2 separate regions of the Homo sapiens genome follow, and region 2 is linked to region 1. Evidence: fine-mapped expression QTL. Tissue or cell type: whole blood. Region 1 holds a variant in brackets; the other region holds the start of a gene. All regions are shown on one strand. Distances are between the middles of the regions.

Evidence for each region. PIP is the estimated chance that this variant, and not a neighbour inherited with it, causes the effect.
Region 2: SEMA3C starts here. The variant in region 1 is fine-mapped to the expression of SEMA3C in whole blood (TOPMed, PIP above 0.99).

What each region holds. Positions count from the first base shown.
Region 1 is chr7:80,705,093-80,713,204 of GRCh38, reverse strand. No RefSeq gene overlaps it. Among named protein-coding and RNA genes, the nearest start is that of CD36, 71 kb to the right of the region's middle. The variant GA/A (reference allele first, on the strand shown) is at 4,938.
Region 2 is chr7:80,914,444-80,922,555 of GRCh38, reverse strand. SEMA3C (semaphorin 3C) reads left to right here and starts at 3,505. Exons shown (of 18, transcript NM_006379.5): 1 at 3,505-3,728; 2 at 5,737-5,877. The coding sequence starts at 5,775. RefSeq lists a silencer at 3,239-3,368 and an enhancer at 3,916-3,985.

The DNA.
Region 1 (8,112 bases):
CCTCAGATGGAAATGCAGAAATCACCCGTCTTCTGCGTCGCTCACGCTGGGAGCTGTAGACTGGAGCTGTTCCTATTTGGCCATCTTGGCTCCTCCCCCTGCTTTTGACAATTTAAAATTCAGTCACATCCAAAGTAAAATTGGCCTTGCAAAGTTAGAAAGGAAGAAAAAAATCAAACAACCCCATCAAAAAGTGGGCAAAGGATATGAACAGACACTTCTCAAAAGAAGACATTTATGCAGCCAACAGACACATGAAAAAAGGTCATCATCACTGGCTATCAGAGAAATGCAAATCAAAACCACAATGAGATACCATCTCACACCAGTTAGAATGACGATCAGTAAAAGTCAGGAAACAACAGATGCTGGAGAGGATGTGGAGAAATAGGAACACTTTTACACTGTTGGTGGGAAGGTAAACTAGTTCAACCATTGTGGAAGACAGTGGCGATTCTTCAAGGATCTAGAACTAGAAATACCATTTGACCCAGCCATCCCATTACTGGGTATATACCCAAAGGATTATAAATCATGCTGCTATAAAGACACATGCACACATATGTTTATTGTGGCACTATTCAAAATAGCAAAGACCTGAAACCAACCCAAATGTCCAACAATGATAGACTGGATTAAGAAAATGTGGCACATATACACCATGGAATACTATGCAGCCATTAAAAAAGGATGAGTTCATGTCTTTTGTAGAGACATGAATGAAGCTGGAAACCGTCATTCTCAGTAAACTATTGCAAGGACAGAAAACCAAACTCCGCATGTTCTCACTCATAGGTGGGAATTGAACAATGAGAACACTTGGACACAGGGTGGGGAACATCACACACCGGGGCCTGTTGTGGGGTGGGGGGAGGGGAGAGGGATAGCATTAGGAGGTATACCTAATGTAAATGACGAGTTAATGGGTGCAGCGCACCAACATGGCACATATATACATATGTAACAAACCTGCATGTTGTGCACCTGTAACCCTAGAACTTAAAGTATAATAATAAAAATAAAAAATAAAGCTTCTTTATTGCCTTAAAATTCTTTTACCTCACTTTTCAATCCTCTGACAAGATAAAGCTCTTTGAGATACATTTAGTATTGTTACCCCTATTGAATAATGGTTAAAATAAAGAAAATGGGAGTGACCTAGTACAATGGAATAAGGAATAAAAATTAGGAATTGTAAATTTTGGCTGTGTACGGCAGGAGGCTTGGGGATTTAAGATTTAGTTGGCAGGATACAGTTAGGTCCACTGCACTTAGTTCAGGGATGGCAAAAACATGATTAGTCCAACCCAAATGTGAATCCCAGTTGGCAACAAGAGATATCCAGGAATTCTGGGCCTGACTGCTGATTCTCCTAGTTCCTCTTCCAGATGCAAGACCACTAGGGAGTAGCGACTCAAGAAGATGACACAGAGGTTGGCAGTATTGCATGTGATTCAGGGGAAGAAAGGGTTCATGTGGGTTTGCCTAACAATGAAGTGTGTGATGTGATGACTACACCACAGGGGGACCAAGTGTGAGCAGAGAGCCAACGGGTGCCCCAGGGATTTTGAGGAGCCAATCAGAGTTAATTGTGCATATAAGAAGTTAGATCACTGTAAGAATTCATTTGTAAACTAGAGCTGCTTGGTAATAACAAACATGCATTTACAACAGACAAGACTGCAGCATTTATTATACTTTCAGCATTTGAAAATGCTTGCTATTAACATAAAAAGTACAGCTCTGACTAGAAATTATCAGAATTATATGGTACAATTATTAAAGTTGTATTCTTGCAGTACCTCCCATATTAATAAGATAATATTAAGATATTAAGAAGACAATATTATCTTCTTTGGCACACAGCTAGAAAATTCTCTTGTTCTAATTCTCCAATAGTTTCTAGGCATTTGTTCTTATGGAGCAATTTAAAATCCATAAAACTTTATTGAGAAATTACTGTGTACAAGCAAACATGCCAGACAATAAACGGGAGATAACCATGTGGAAAGAACTCTTCCCTCCAGGAGTTTATCCTCAATGAAGTGCAATTCGATTATGATGTAAGCCAATTGAGGTTCTGAAATAATTCACTTTGCTTAACACATATTTTTTATTTTTTGTAGAAACCGTATATTTAACATGTACAACATGATGTTTTAATACATATATGGAATAAAATAAGCAAATTAACATATTCATTTCCTCACTTACTTTATTATTGTCATGAGAGCACCTGAAATGTTCTCTTAGAAAATTTCCATGTGTCTGGTTTATTAATTTTGCATAATGTCCTCCAGGTTCATCCATGTTGTTGTAAGTGGCAGAATTTCCTTTCTTAAGGCTGCATAATACCTCATTTTGTGTGTGTGTGTGTGTATGTTATATAAGTTACATATGTTATATACAAGTTATATATATATACACACACACAAGTTTATATATACACACACACACACACACACACACAAAATGAGGTATTATGTAGCCTTAAACTTATATAAGTTTTATTTATATTCATTACATACTGTAATTTTGTTATCCATTCACCTGTCTACAAAACTTAGGTTGTTTTCTTGTTTTGCCTAACATGAATAATACTACAATGAACACGGGAGTGCAGAATATCACTCTGAGGTACTGAGTTCATTTCCTCTGGTATATACCCAGATGGGGACTTGCTGGATCATATGGTAGTTCTATTAATTGTTAATTTTTTATTTTTGATGAATCTACATGCTTTTTCCCATAATTGTATTCCCCTAAGAGCATGCAAAAGTTCCCTTTTCTCCACATTCTCGCCAGCACTTGTTATCTCTTATCTTTTCATTAACAGCCATCTTAACAGGTGTGAGGTGATAGCTCACTGTAGTTTTGCTGTGCATGTCCCTGATGATTAGTGATGTTGAGAACCTTTACATATACTTGTTGGCCATTTTTGTCTCCTTTGAAAAAATGTCTACTCAGATCCTTTGTCCATTTTTTACTTTTTAATTAGATTGCTTTTCTTTTTTCTTTTGTTCTTTTTTTTGGCTACTGAATTGTGTAGGCTCTTTATATGTTGGGGATGTTAAATCCTTATCAGATACATGGCTTGCAATATTTTCTTTCAATCTCTTGACTGTCTTTCCATTTTGGTACTTGTTTCCTTTTTTGTGTAGAAGCTTTTTAGTTTGGTGGAGTCCCACTTTATTGTTACTTTTGTACCCTGAGCTTTTGGTAGGATATCCCAAATATCATTGCCCAGACCAAGATCAAGAAGCTTTTAGCCTATGTTTTCTTCTAGGATTTTTATGGTTTCAGGTCTGATGTTTAAGTCTTCAATCCATTTCGAGTTGAGTGTGTGTGTGTGTGTGTGTGTGTGTGTGTGTGTGTGTGTGTGTGTTTTATAAGATAAAGATTCAATACTGATTGTATGTTCTCAATAGAAATATTCTGATGTTGGTCAAAGATATGAAAAAGATGCTAATTCTGGTAAATCCATCTATTTTGGTGACCTATGCCAGGCCAGAAAAGCTTTTAAGTTGAGAAGGGACATTTACACAAGCATAGCAGTATATCAGATCACACAGAGTGTTCATCAAAAAAGAACTGAAACTTGACTGGTTTTTAAATAAATTGAGATATTGTGACTGAACCTCAAATTAGGCTCATTTTCTATGTCCTTGAGATATCAAACTTCTGTTATCTGTAAGGAGATTAACAATCTTGAATAGTTTTTTTTTTTCCCACCTGGTAAAATGCCACTGTAGGTAGTCATTTCAATCAAAATGATTAAGGTGGACTCATCCCAGAAAAGACAGGGTCACTGCACACGTTTGTCTCAGTGATAGGTTATCCTGAGTGATTATAGTATCAGAATACATTATGATTCCAAAGTAGCTTTGCCTTCTGTTTTAGTCCGTTCTTAAACTGCAATAAAGAAACACCCGAGACTGGGTAATTTATAAAGGAAAGCAGTTTAATTGACTCACAGTTCCACATGGCTGGGGAGGCCTCAGGAAACTTGCAATCATGGAGGAAGGTGAAGAGGAAGCAAGGACATTCTTCACATGGTGGCAGGAGAGATCGTGTGTATAGAAGGAACTGTCAGACCCTTATAAAACCATCAGATCTTGTGAGAACTCAGTATCATGAGAACAGCATGGGGACACTGCCTCCACGATCCAATCATCTCCCACCAGTTCTCTCCTATGATGCATGGGGATTATGGAGACAATTCAAGACAAGATTTGGATGGGGACAAAAACCTAATCATATCACCTTCATAACATCCAGAAGAAAATATAGGAAGGAAACTCAATTGAGGAAGCTCCTGGAATAGATATAGTTGTGTCCATAAAAGATACTACTCAACCTGATCAGAAAATGAACCTTGAAATTCATCAAGAGATCACCGCCCTTCTTGACTGCAGCTTTCAAAGTACTAAAATGCCATGAAGCACTGGCCACGTTAAGTCTATTTCTGGTGATTGTCCTGAGATCTCTAGAAGTTCAAGTCCAAATTCCTCCTATCTGGTGCCACAAGAAAGAAAAGGAGGGACTCTTACCAACCCCTAGGTTGAATGATCTCTGTTTACATACTACCTCACCTCAGTCACAATGGAGGATCCAATTTTACGTTGATTATGAGTGGAGAGGAAAAACAAAGGTATTAGAAACTGCAGCTTCACTTGGGTAAGGGTGAGACGGACACAGTGTGGGAGCATACTCTTGTATGGTTGTGCTAAGTTGGGTTTTTAGGCTTTCTAACGCTCATCAAGATAGTCTGCTTGCAGATAAGATAAAGTGTGCTCACTTAGGTTGCCCTTAAAGAGGAACAGTTAGGAGACTTTCTCCATGTCACAATATCCTGGATACCTTCTTTTAGTGTTTTAATTTACATATATGATGAAAATTAGTTGATGACTTCCCTTTTGTGGCCATACTTCTTGAAA[GA/A]GTTTCATATATGTTTTAAATACTTAACACTTCACTCACTCTTTAGCAATCTGGTTTCCTTGACCATGACTCTACTGCAATTGCTTCCCTCCACAGTCTCTCACAAGGATGGGGGCTGCTCATCACCAATGCTTCTCCCTAAAGCACACTCTTCTCTTACCTTTTGTGACTGTTCTCCTCTTCCTCTTCCTGGCATTCTTTCTAAGTCCTTTGGAAATGCTGCTTCTTCCAGCCCCATCTTTAAAGTTAACGCTCCTTGGGACTTTGTTTAGACTGTTTTATTATTTATTTATTTATTTTTTTATGCTATATTCTTCCCCTGCATGATTTCATTCATGTCCATGGCTTCAGTTATGTCTTTATCCAGTTGTCTCTTTCTCTCTTGAGTTATACTTCTACATTCTATATGCACCTAGCAGTACTTCTAAGGCTGAACACATCACTTCACCCAGCCAAAACCATGTCTACTTCTGTGTTGCCTATGTCATGTTACCCAACTATCTAATCTATCTAAATATCTAATCTATCTAAATAAAAATCCTCTTATATCCTACAAATCGATCAACAAGTCCTGTCAATTCAACTCCCTCAATGTTTCTTGATTACTGTCCACTTTCACTGTGAACTTCTACTGCCTTTGTTCTGATCACTAATATATTTTATGGAACTTGTTATAACATCCTTCAGTAAATGTGTTACACAATAGCCAGAATGATCTTTTAAATATTATCTGGTTGTGTCATCCTCCTTCCTAAAACCCCCAATGTTTACACCTCATCCTCAACAAGTTCAGTGATTCTTAGCCTGATTTACAGAATCCTTCCTTGTTCACCCCACTGTTCATCTCAGCTTCATTCTTGCCAGTCCCTAACTTGTGCTGGAAACTACAGCCATATGAAACTTGTTTTTGCTCCTCCAGTGAATCTCACTCCTCTCTAAGTCTTTTCATACTATGTTAATTCTGCTTAGAATTCCCTCTGATTTGGTTTCATTAACAACTATTTTTTCTGATGTTTCCTGTTTTTTTTTTTTTTTCAATTTTCTCAGTCTGATTTTTCCACAGGCTTCTTGCCCTTCCCTGATTATAACAGTGTATCACAATTTCCTACTTGCTTGTTTGTATCCCCACTAAATTGAAAGCAACTTAAGTTGATCTTATTCACAGCTGGGTAAGGGAAGGAGCCATCCACTAATATAAAGAATAAAAAGAACAGGATAAAGAAAAGTAATTCATTTTACACATTTCTATACTCCATTATGCTTCTGGTGTATTTTTTTATGCTTCTACTTTTATATTAACTTTTTATGGAAAACTAAAAACAGCACAATTTTTATTGAGCAAAGTTATTAAGTTGGGCCTCAAAGCCTAAAAAAGAATAAGAAATAACTGTTTGGAATAGGAATTGTGACTTTCAGAAGGAACAGTAAGAAATGTTGAGATTTTACTTGATGGCCTGAATACAATTTGGTATCAATCATATTTCCCCATAGATCACATACAACTTTTGAAAGTGTTGGGGACTTAAGAACACCAAGGAGAAGCCGATACATGTCCTTTAAATATAAAAGCTGAGAAAGGAAAATCAGTATGCAGATGCGTTGTTAGAGCCCATAGGAGAACACTGCTGTTTCTCTTAATTAGAAAATTCAAGAGAGTTCTTATTTTGGAATATCTTTGTTTTTGTAATTGTGATATTTTAAAAATTTGTAAATATAACAATCTCTTTTGTGTTTCAGCTTGGTATCACTCATATTACCAAGTCTTAAATGCCCAAGTTTGAAAAAAATATTTTAATAAATTTTATTGTCTATATTTAAGGTATGTAACATGATATGGGATACATAGAGACAGTGAAATGGTTACTAGAGTGAAGCAAATTAACATATCCATCATCTCACATAGTTACCCTTTTTTCAGTGTGTGTGGCAAGTGCAGCTAACATCTACTCATTTAGCACAATTTCTGAATACAGTATATTATTATTACTATTATTATTATTATTATTTGAGATGGAGTCTCACTCTGTCACCCAGGCTGGAATGTAGTGGCCCAATGTCAGTTCACTGCAACCTCTGCCTCCCGGGTTCAAGCGATTCTCCTGCCTCAGCCTGCAGCACAGGCGTGCACCACTATGCCTAGCTAATTTTTGTGTTTTGAGTAAAGATGGGGTTTCACCATGTTGGCTAGGCTGGTAGTAAACTCCTGACCTCAGGTGATCTGCCTGCCTTGGCCTCTCAAAGTGCTGGGGTTACAGGCGTGAGCCAATATATTAACTCTAAACCTCATCTGCATTAGATTGCTAGACTTGTTTACCCTAATATCTGCTACTCTGTATCCTCTAACTTACATCTCCCCATTGCCCACCCCTGCCTTCCCCCACCCCTGGTAACTACATTGAGAAAATATTTCTGAACATAGCCTTGGAAACTATTTACATGTATTATTTCCTGCTGGGTTGTATTATATCTTAATATGCTCAAATAAGCCATTTATCTCCTCTATTAAGTTTCTTTTGTGTTTGTCTTATCTCACTAACTAGAAAATTACTTCCTTGAAGACTTCCTTATTTATACATCTCTCATTTCTCCTAAAACAAATAGGATAGTTCCAGACACATAGCAGATATTCAATAAATATGCTTTGATTAAGTTAATACATTTGGAATCTTTCTTCTGTTTAATGTTTGCAGTGTTAATCACCATCTGTGGTTCCATTAAATCATTATATAATATGAAAAGCAAGCACACTACTCTGATGATGCTCTCCTTTAGGTCTGTGCCTCACTAAAATTCAGAGACTTGTGGGTCAGTTTAGTTGTAACCCTGTACACACACACACACACACACACACACACACACACTTTCTCTCTCTCTCTCTCTCTCTCAGGTAGGGCAACACTGTAAACACACTCTCTTTCTCTTTTTCTCTCTCTCTCTCTCTCTCTCTCTTAGGTGGGGCAACCCTGTACACACACACGTGCACTCTCTCTCTCTCTCTCTCATACACACTTAATGGGCTGGCTGAAGGTGAAGGGTAAAACTGATGTTGATTTTCTTTAGGTATAAAATATTGCCCCTATTGCCCCTTCCACGTCTGATGCAATAGACCCACAAGTCTATTCTTCAGACATGATATGTGTAGGTTTTAAACGCTTATTTATCTTTTCAACATTT
Region 2 (8,112 bases), 210 kb before region 1:
TATTGAAAAATTAGAAATGATTTGATAGAGGAAATATTAAAGCCTATTTGCTGTGCAGGTAGCAGTTTCACACACAGATTTCTAGACCAGACCTGTTTGACCGGCTTGGTCTCAGAGCTGCTAATGTAACCCAAGGAGACGTAAGGCTGATGTAAATAAAGTAAGTAACCATTGGAAGTTGAGACTTTCCAAAGATACAGTTCAGGAAACTTAAAAGGATGGCATATGGAAGTTGAGTGAAGGAGAAAGAGAGGGAAGTAGAAAAGAGGAGAAAAATGTTAAGCAAAAAAGGTAAGAGGAAGTATTGAAACTTATTGAAAAACCTGAGACATTACGGCAATCACGCTTGAGTTTCTCTTCCTATTCTGATATTTACTACCCATTTGACTTTGGGCAAACCTTCAACGTTCTCTCATTGAAAATTGTAACTTCATTAAAGAATGCTATGCAGATAATAAGCAAAGTACCTCGCAAATACACAATCTATTTTCTATTACAAATATCAGTTTTTATGACTAAATAATAAGACAATTTTTAACCTCTGAATGATTAATATTCTCTGGTTAGGGTAAAGTTTATTTACATGACTCATCTGTATAATAGGGAAAAATCTGTTTTCTTTAAATTTGAAATAAGATAATGTATAGCTGCAGAAACTCCTGGAGAAAAGTATGTAACTCAACATCGGTGCTAGAGTTTTAAGTTAAATAGCATTCCTCAGGACCATCAAAAACATAAAATATTAAAAATATGCCCACTACACCTTGGCAGGCAGAGACACTTCAGTGTGTAAGATACTGCACCATTTCTAAAACGTCTTAATAAAAGTTATCCTAAGTATTTTAGTTTGGCCGCTCGTCTGAAACGTTTTGCTGGGTGCAAACATTGTAATTAGTGCTCTCTAAATTTAGTTGTGCCACTACTCCTGTAGATCCATTTAGTGTCCCCCTTACCGAAAACAGCGTTCTCAATTAGCTGTTGTTTTCCACTTGTAAGGACAGTCAAAGCTGAAGTCTTAAAAAAGTGGTAGTGCCCAGAAATGTTTCTTAGGCAAGTCTTGTTTTGTCAAGGTGTTTTAAGCAGTGTGGGGAAATGTGGGCAGAGATTAATCTTAGGGGCTTCTAGTGCCACTGTTAAAATTCCACTCTGTGGCCTAAGTCTCTGGCAAGCATGAGCACTGTGTCCTTGCGCTTGAATCTATCTTGGCTAAAGCCTATCAGTATTTTTATGATTCATTTTGAGGTGTGGCCAACTGTAAACGTCTCAGAGCTAAGCAAATACCATTAAATCCCAGGAGCACATTGAAAAGAGGTTTATTTGAGCAATATTGAGGGAATTTCGGCACAAATTTCATGGGCTGTGATTAAATCTAAGCTATTTGTCAAGGCCTCCAAACCCCTGAATGTGTAACAGATTGAGCTAATTCATTGGTGTTTGTAAATTGAGTTTGGAATTAAGCTCCTTTGTAAATACACCGTTTGAGATGCATTTCATCTTGCAACTCTTTATCGTGGTTTTCTCAAACTTAAAATGTATAAACGAATTCCATCTTACGTGAATTTGCTGATCAATTTCTAACAGCTCCACATTTCTAAATTAATTTAATCCACACACTCATCTTTCTAATGATTTATTCTTCTCCCTGCTTAATATATAAATGCCGAATGAGATATCAGAAGGAGGATAATAGTGGAGAGTATATAACCTGGATCTTACTCAGTTTCAGAAGTATTTCAGAGAAGCACGCACAGTGCTTATTCACATTGACATCTGGATTTTAATATTGTCAGTTTTTGGGGGGTTAAATTCCTTATTACAAATTTATGTCAAGGATCTTCTCACGCATCATCACAAAAAATAATTTTAACTGTTGTTACTATATTAATTTTTTGACGTTTGGAGATAATATTAGCCCTGGAATAGTATTTTTGAACTCATAAATTTGCATTATTTGACTTGATCCTTCGTTCCTTGACTATGCAGCGTGAGTCTGAGACACGTGTATGTTTACTGAACACAAGAGGTGGGCCCCAGACACATGAAAGATGTGTCTCACTCACCTCTTCCTCCTACCTGAGATTTCATTCAACTTTCCCACTGAACAATGATTTTGCACCCCCAGAGGGGTTTTCTATGATACAGTTTATAAGAATTTAATGATTGTTTCATTATGTGAATTGTCAGGTATAAGGTGGAGATATTACACTCCACGTTCCTTCTGTAGAGTGACATCTGCTGGGCTGTGCCCCACAGTGATTTTAAGCAAGTGCCTGCTTGTTTTATGGGGATCAAAGCTCATTTCTCCCGATGTTTAAACATCTAGTTTATTGTGGTCCGGAGAAGTAATTTTCACTTAAACATCAAAGTCAGTTCCAGAGTTTAACGAGTGTACCTGAAAGTAATGCTGGAAAAATACCTCTGATGTATTTCTGTAGATGTGTGGTTATGGCAATCTGTTGGCATAACTCAGAACAGCCTCTCCACATAGAATTGTCAAATAATTTCTTCGTGTAATTATGTTTGGGAGTATGGTTGGGGACAACGTACTGGATATGAGTCAACGTGGAGGGGTCAACAGAATTACTGCTTTCAGGGCATTAAGGAAACTCAATAGGAAACAATACCCATTAAAAGGATACACTTGTGCAACAAGATTGTCGTTTATCTTGACCTGTTTTAGAAAACACGCAACAGAGGCCCGGCGCGGTGGCTCTCGGCACTTTGGGCGGCTGAGGCGGGCGGACCATTAGGTCAAGAGATCCAGACCATCCTGGCCCTGTCTCTACTAAAAATACAAAAATTAGCTGGGCGTGGTGGTGGGAGCCTGTAGTCCCAGCTATTCAGGAGGCTGAGGCAGGAGAATCGCTTGAACCCGGGAGGCGGAGGTTGCAGTGAGCCATGATCACACCACTGCACTGCACTCCAGCCTGGCGACAGAGTGAGATTCCCTCTCCAAAAACAAAACAAAAAACAAAAAACAAAAAACAAAAAAAAAACGCAGCAGAATAAGGACAAAACTCACGTCCTTTTAAAAACGCATCTCTTTGCCTTAAAAGGCTGCAGTGATCCTTCCCTGGCAAAAATAAAAAACCACAACTGCTTTGCACTTTGATATTTACGGCCAGGCAAAGCCTGTGTAAGTCTTCGAGAGCCGCCGGCAACAAAAACCGTGGAGCGCACCCAGCAAGTTGCTCACTCCGCCGCGGACTGCGAAAGGAGCAGGGTTGCGGAGCTAGGGCTCCAGCCTGCGGCCGCGCATTCTTGCGTCTGGCCAGCCGCGAGCTCTAAGGGTCGGCCCCGCCCGGTCCGCCCCCGCGGCTCCCTGCCAGGCTCTCGCGGGCGCGCTCGGGGTGGGGCCTCGCGGCTGGCGGAGATGCGGCCGGGGCTGCGCGGTGGTGATGCGAGCCTGCAGGGCGGCGCGCCGGGGCAGCCGGAGCCGCGCGCCGCGGCGCTGTAATCGGACACCAAGAGCGCTCGCCCCCGGCCTCCGGCCACTTTCCATTCACTCCGAGGTGCTTGATTGAGCGACGCGGAGAAGAGCTCCGGGTGCCGCGGCACTGCAGCGCTGAGATTCCTTTACAAAGAAACTCAGAGGACCGGGAAGAAAGAATTTCACCTTTGCGACGTGCTAGAAAATAAGGTCGTCTGGGAAAAGGACTGGAGACACAAGCGCATCCAACCCCGGTAGCAAACTGATGACTTTTCCGTGCTGATTTCTTTCAACCTCGGTAAGCTAAATTGGTCATTTTCCGCATTACAGATTTAGCAAAGTATAACTTTTTTGGCCTGTATATTGATTTTTCATACATTGGTATGCTCAAGCCTGGACATTTTCTTAAGAACACACGCGGTTTGTCAGGGAAGCTTTCCCCTTGCTGAGAGCCCTGCTCGAGTTGTTTCTTTAGGCGGTGACACCTGCGGAGAGTTTCAAGTTGAGTATTACAGTGCCTTCAAAGGCAAAATTGCTCCAGAGGAGATAAGAGAATTCTTTTCTTAATGTGTTGTTAGTTTGCGATCAGCAGAAGTGAAAACACCAAGAGGAACGTCTGTGTCTGAGTTAAAGGGAAGAAGTTGTAAGATACTGTTGGGGAGGCGGGGGTGTATTTAAGACACTTGGCTTTCAGTCTTTCACTCCTCATCACTAGGTGGGATGTAAATCAAATTGCCCTGTAGACTATCTTCGTTTCACCTGCCATTGTATCACCAGTATTCTTTGCAATTGGTTGTATATGTACTTTTGGGAGAAACATATAAGGTAAGATACCAATATGTAAAAAAAATGTGTAAATAATATCAACTTGCTCAGTAAACATAACAAAGGTTAGGCATATTAATAGTTTTTTTCTTTTGGCTTTAACTATGAAGTCAACAGAACCAAGGGGTAAATTACTGAGGGAAAGTCACCCATAAAATCAGTTTCTTTCTAAGTTAATTTAGGGATGACAGGGTGAAGAGGTTGTGGAAGCAGGAAGAAACTGTTTCTTTTGAAAATTACCAACACAAACATCTCTAGAGTTTCCTCCATCTGTGTGGTAAAAGAAGCGTACAATTTCATTTCTAACTCTCATAACATATGCACCACCTAGGAAATCTACTTACAATTTTTGTTTAAAATTGCATATTCCATTTAATTCTTTTTATTCTGTATTAATGAAGCTGTCTTTTTCAGTTGTTAGTGGTTCTTACAAAGAATTTAATAATTTTGACTATGAAATTTTAATTTGAAAAGCCAAATAATGAAGATCAGCATTGTTGTAACCTGTAAAAATAAATTTCTTTACTGGACTCTTGGGTCACTTTATTGTGTAATTATGGTAGAAGCAAAATGATTGTGTTTCTTTAATGGTCCTGAGTTTATTTTACATGATGTAGCCACTAGAGCTCCTGTAGGTTTATGGTAACACATTATCTGGTCTTCCTTGGGATTCAGATATTAGTTAATAGCATGTACCAATTTTATATCTATAGTTTGAAGCAGTGACACCTGTCTCTTTGATTTATCTTTGGGAATTTTGACAGCCCACATTCTGGTTGATTTATTTAAAATATGCATTGGTGGATACATGGCTCACTGGATTGCTCACCACTAGGTCATTGGTTTGAATTTGGCACTAGTCCATGGTTACTTCAACTGCATCATTTAACAACTGCCTGTTGGTCATCTGGATAAAATGGCAGATAACTGATTCCAGTGACTTCAGTGATCCAGGATTGAGCACACATAGATTTATGTAAGGAAACACCACTTCCAGAGACAATTACTCCAAAAGAGCTAATGACTATTGAAGTGAGTAGGTACACATGAATGCTCATGTGAGATTTTGCTGCTGCTGTTACGTTAGTGGGGGGAAAGAGTTCTCATCCAGTAATATTCTTTTAGCTCAATTCTATTCAAGTCTTTTTAATGTAATGGATTTCTAGAGAGAAGATCCGTTAAAATATTGGGCTTTCCTTTGGGTATCAGTGTTTTTCTTCACTGCTTTGTTCTGTTTTGATGGTAGCATCAATTTGCTGGAAGATGAAAGTTTCTCTTGTTGCAAAGACTTCCAGACACAAATGAATCAAATCCACATTTTCACATCTGAGAAGCAAAGACACAGCACCTCCTACTGTTTGCATTACTGTAAAAGTTCAGATGGTTCTTTTGTGAATAGGGTGTTTTGTCTAGATTGCTGTTTTTTCCTACTCCTAAAATGTGAAATGAGATATAACAAACATGTTGTCTCTCTCTTAAAGGTATTTTCCCTTGGATATTAACTTGCATATCTGAAGAAATGGCATTCCGGACAATTTGCGTGTTGGTTGGAGTATTTATTTGTTCTATCTGTGTGAAAGGATCTTCCCAGCCCCAAGCAAGAGTTTATTTAACATTTGATGGTAAGAGAGTTGATAAACACTCTGGGAAAAATGTTATTTTAAGTTTTGTTATCTTCCTTATCCAGATTCAGAAATTAAGAGTATAAATATTACTGGATATTAATTTTAAAAATATTTACTGGGCTGCGTTTTGGAGGACAATAGCTATTTTAAATGATTGGTTAATAGACAAAGATCCTCTGTTGGATTTGAGGTATTTATGAAAATGCTTATAATATATGCTGCTTTTTGTAAAATAATTCTTCTGTGCTTGCCTGTGTACTCACAGAGGAGATGGGCACGAGCTCAAAGCCTAGCATCTTTGATCTTACTGTTCACCTGGTAATGTTAAGAAATTGCCCCTTTGTGCTAATCCTCAGCAGCAGAGAGAGCTATGCAGGTTCAATTACTAAAAAATTCTCCCAATTAATTTTTTGGGCATTAGTCTCAAAACTGGTTACTCCGTGTGTTGTTCTAATGGTGTTTCTTCTTTTTCCACAAGGATTTCCTGAGATTGGCATAGTCCCCTAATTAATTGAAAAGGACCTAAAAGAATAATTGGAAATATGCTTTTGATGGTTGTTGTATACAAATGTTCTCAGAAGCTTAGGGAAATGGGTGTGATTTCAGATTTTCACATACATAAAAGGTGCAAGGTCTTCTGAGGGAATGGTTTGCATGAGCTTTAATGTATATAGTTCAAAGGACTTACAGATGAATGAATTTGGTTAGTCAAGTAACCCATACTAATTGGACAGATGGAGCAAGACATGGATGAGGAACACCATCCTGCCAATCAAGGTCATTTATAATTTTATTACTTCTTTCAACTCTGCATAAACTTTAGTGTCATTGCAAGTACTTTTTCTTTCATTTGATAAACAATATATTCTCAGACCTTTCTATAGCAGAGTGTCTCTGAAACTTTGTCTCAAATTCCTTTTTTTTTTTTTTTTTTTGAGACAGTGTCTCACGCTGTCACCAGGTTGGAGTGCAGTGACACGATCTCGGCTCACTGCAGTCTCCACCTCCCAGGTTCAAGCCATTCTCCTTCCTCAGCCTACCCAGTAGCTGGGATTACAGGTGCGTGCCACCACACCGAGCTAATTTTTGTATTTTTAGTAGAGACGGAGTTTCACCATGTTGGCCAGGATGGTCTCGATCTCCTGACCTTGTGATCTGCCCGCCTCCGCCTCCCGAGGTGAGCCACCACGCCTGGCCTCAAATTTCAAATAGCAGAATGACTGACACTTGCCAGTCAAATGGCTGTCCTTTTTTTCTTTTTAAGTCACCAGTGCTTTCCCCAAGGTTGTCATAAGCACCGAAGGAGCCATATTTGGAACTTAGAATGTGTGAGCTTCTAATTGCTTCCTTAGCCTCCATGCAAGGCATTTCCCCTTAAAACCCATAGCTATGCAGTTAAGTTGTGAAGAATGGAAAAACAGACCCTTTGAGGTATCCTTTTTAGCCCCTTAATTACTAAAGCATCTTACAGACTACCCACACTTTTCCTCCCAAGTTAGAACTATGAAATACGTTTTCAAATAAAAGAGAAAGGGCATTAAGAAGTAGTGCAATTTCCCCTCTATTTTCTATATTTCTCCTAGTATATATAGAGATGGAGTGACCTAATAGATTAGATGTCTCTACCTGCTTTCTTTTCCATTACATGAAAATTAATCCAAACTAATGTAAATATCAACAAAAAGTGTGTTACTAGAGATAATGAACCAATTCTGTATTTGAAAAAGCAATTGCAATTCATATTTTACAGAAGGAAATTACATAGTATAATCTTTTAGAACCAGACTTCAGAACTGTGTAAGACAGTGACAGCTATGCTATACAGTGACTAGAAGTAATGATGGGATTTAAAATAATATATGCCTAATATTTTAAATGCACTCAAACTTAAAACAGATTCTTGCAGAATAAGACTTGCCTTGATTTGTAACTTATGTAGAATATGACATGAGTTGTTGATCTCAAAGTTCTATAATTCCTGATATTTTGTTCTTCTCAGGTGTATTACTGGTACTCTTAGGAAGTGAGAGAAAAACAGAGCAAATAATCAGAGAGATAGAAAATCACTTGTTTTGAATACTGTTTAAAAGAGATGTATCAACAGTGAGAATACATCTAATAAAATTGCACGATTGGTAACTCAATAATTTTAAACATTCCTACAATGAACTACATAGACAAGTTATAGGGAAAGTATCAGGCGAAAACAGTTGTCAAAATGTACAAATTTTA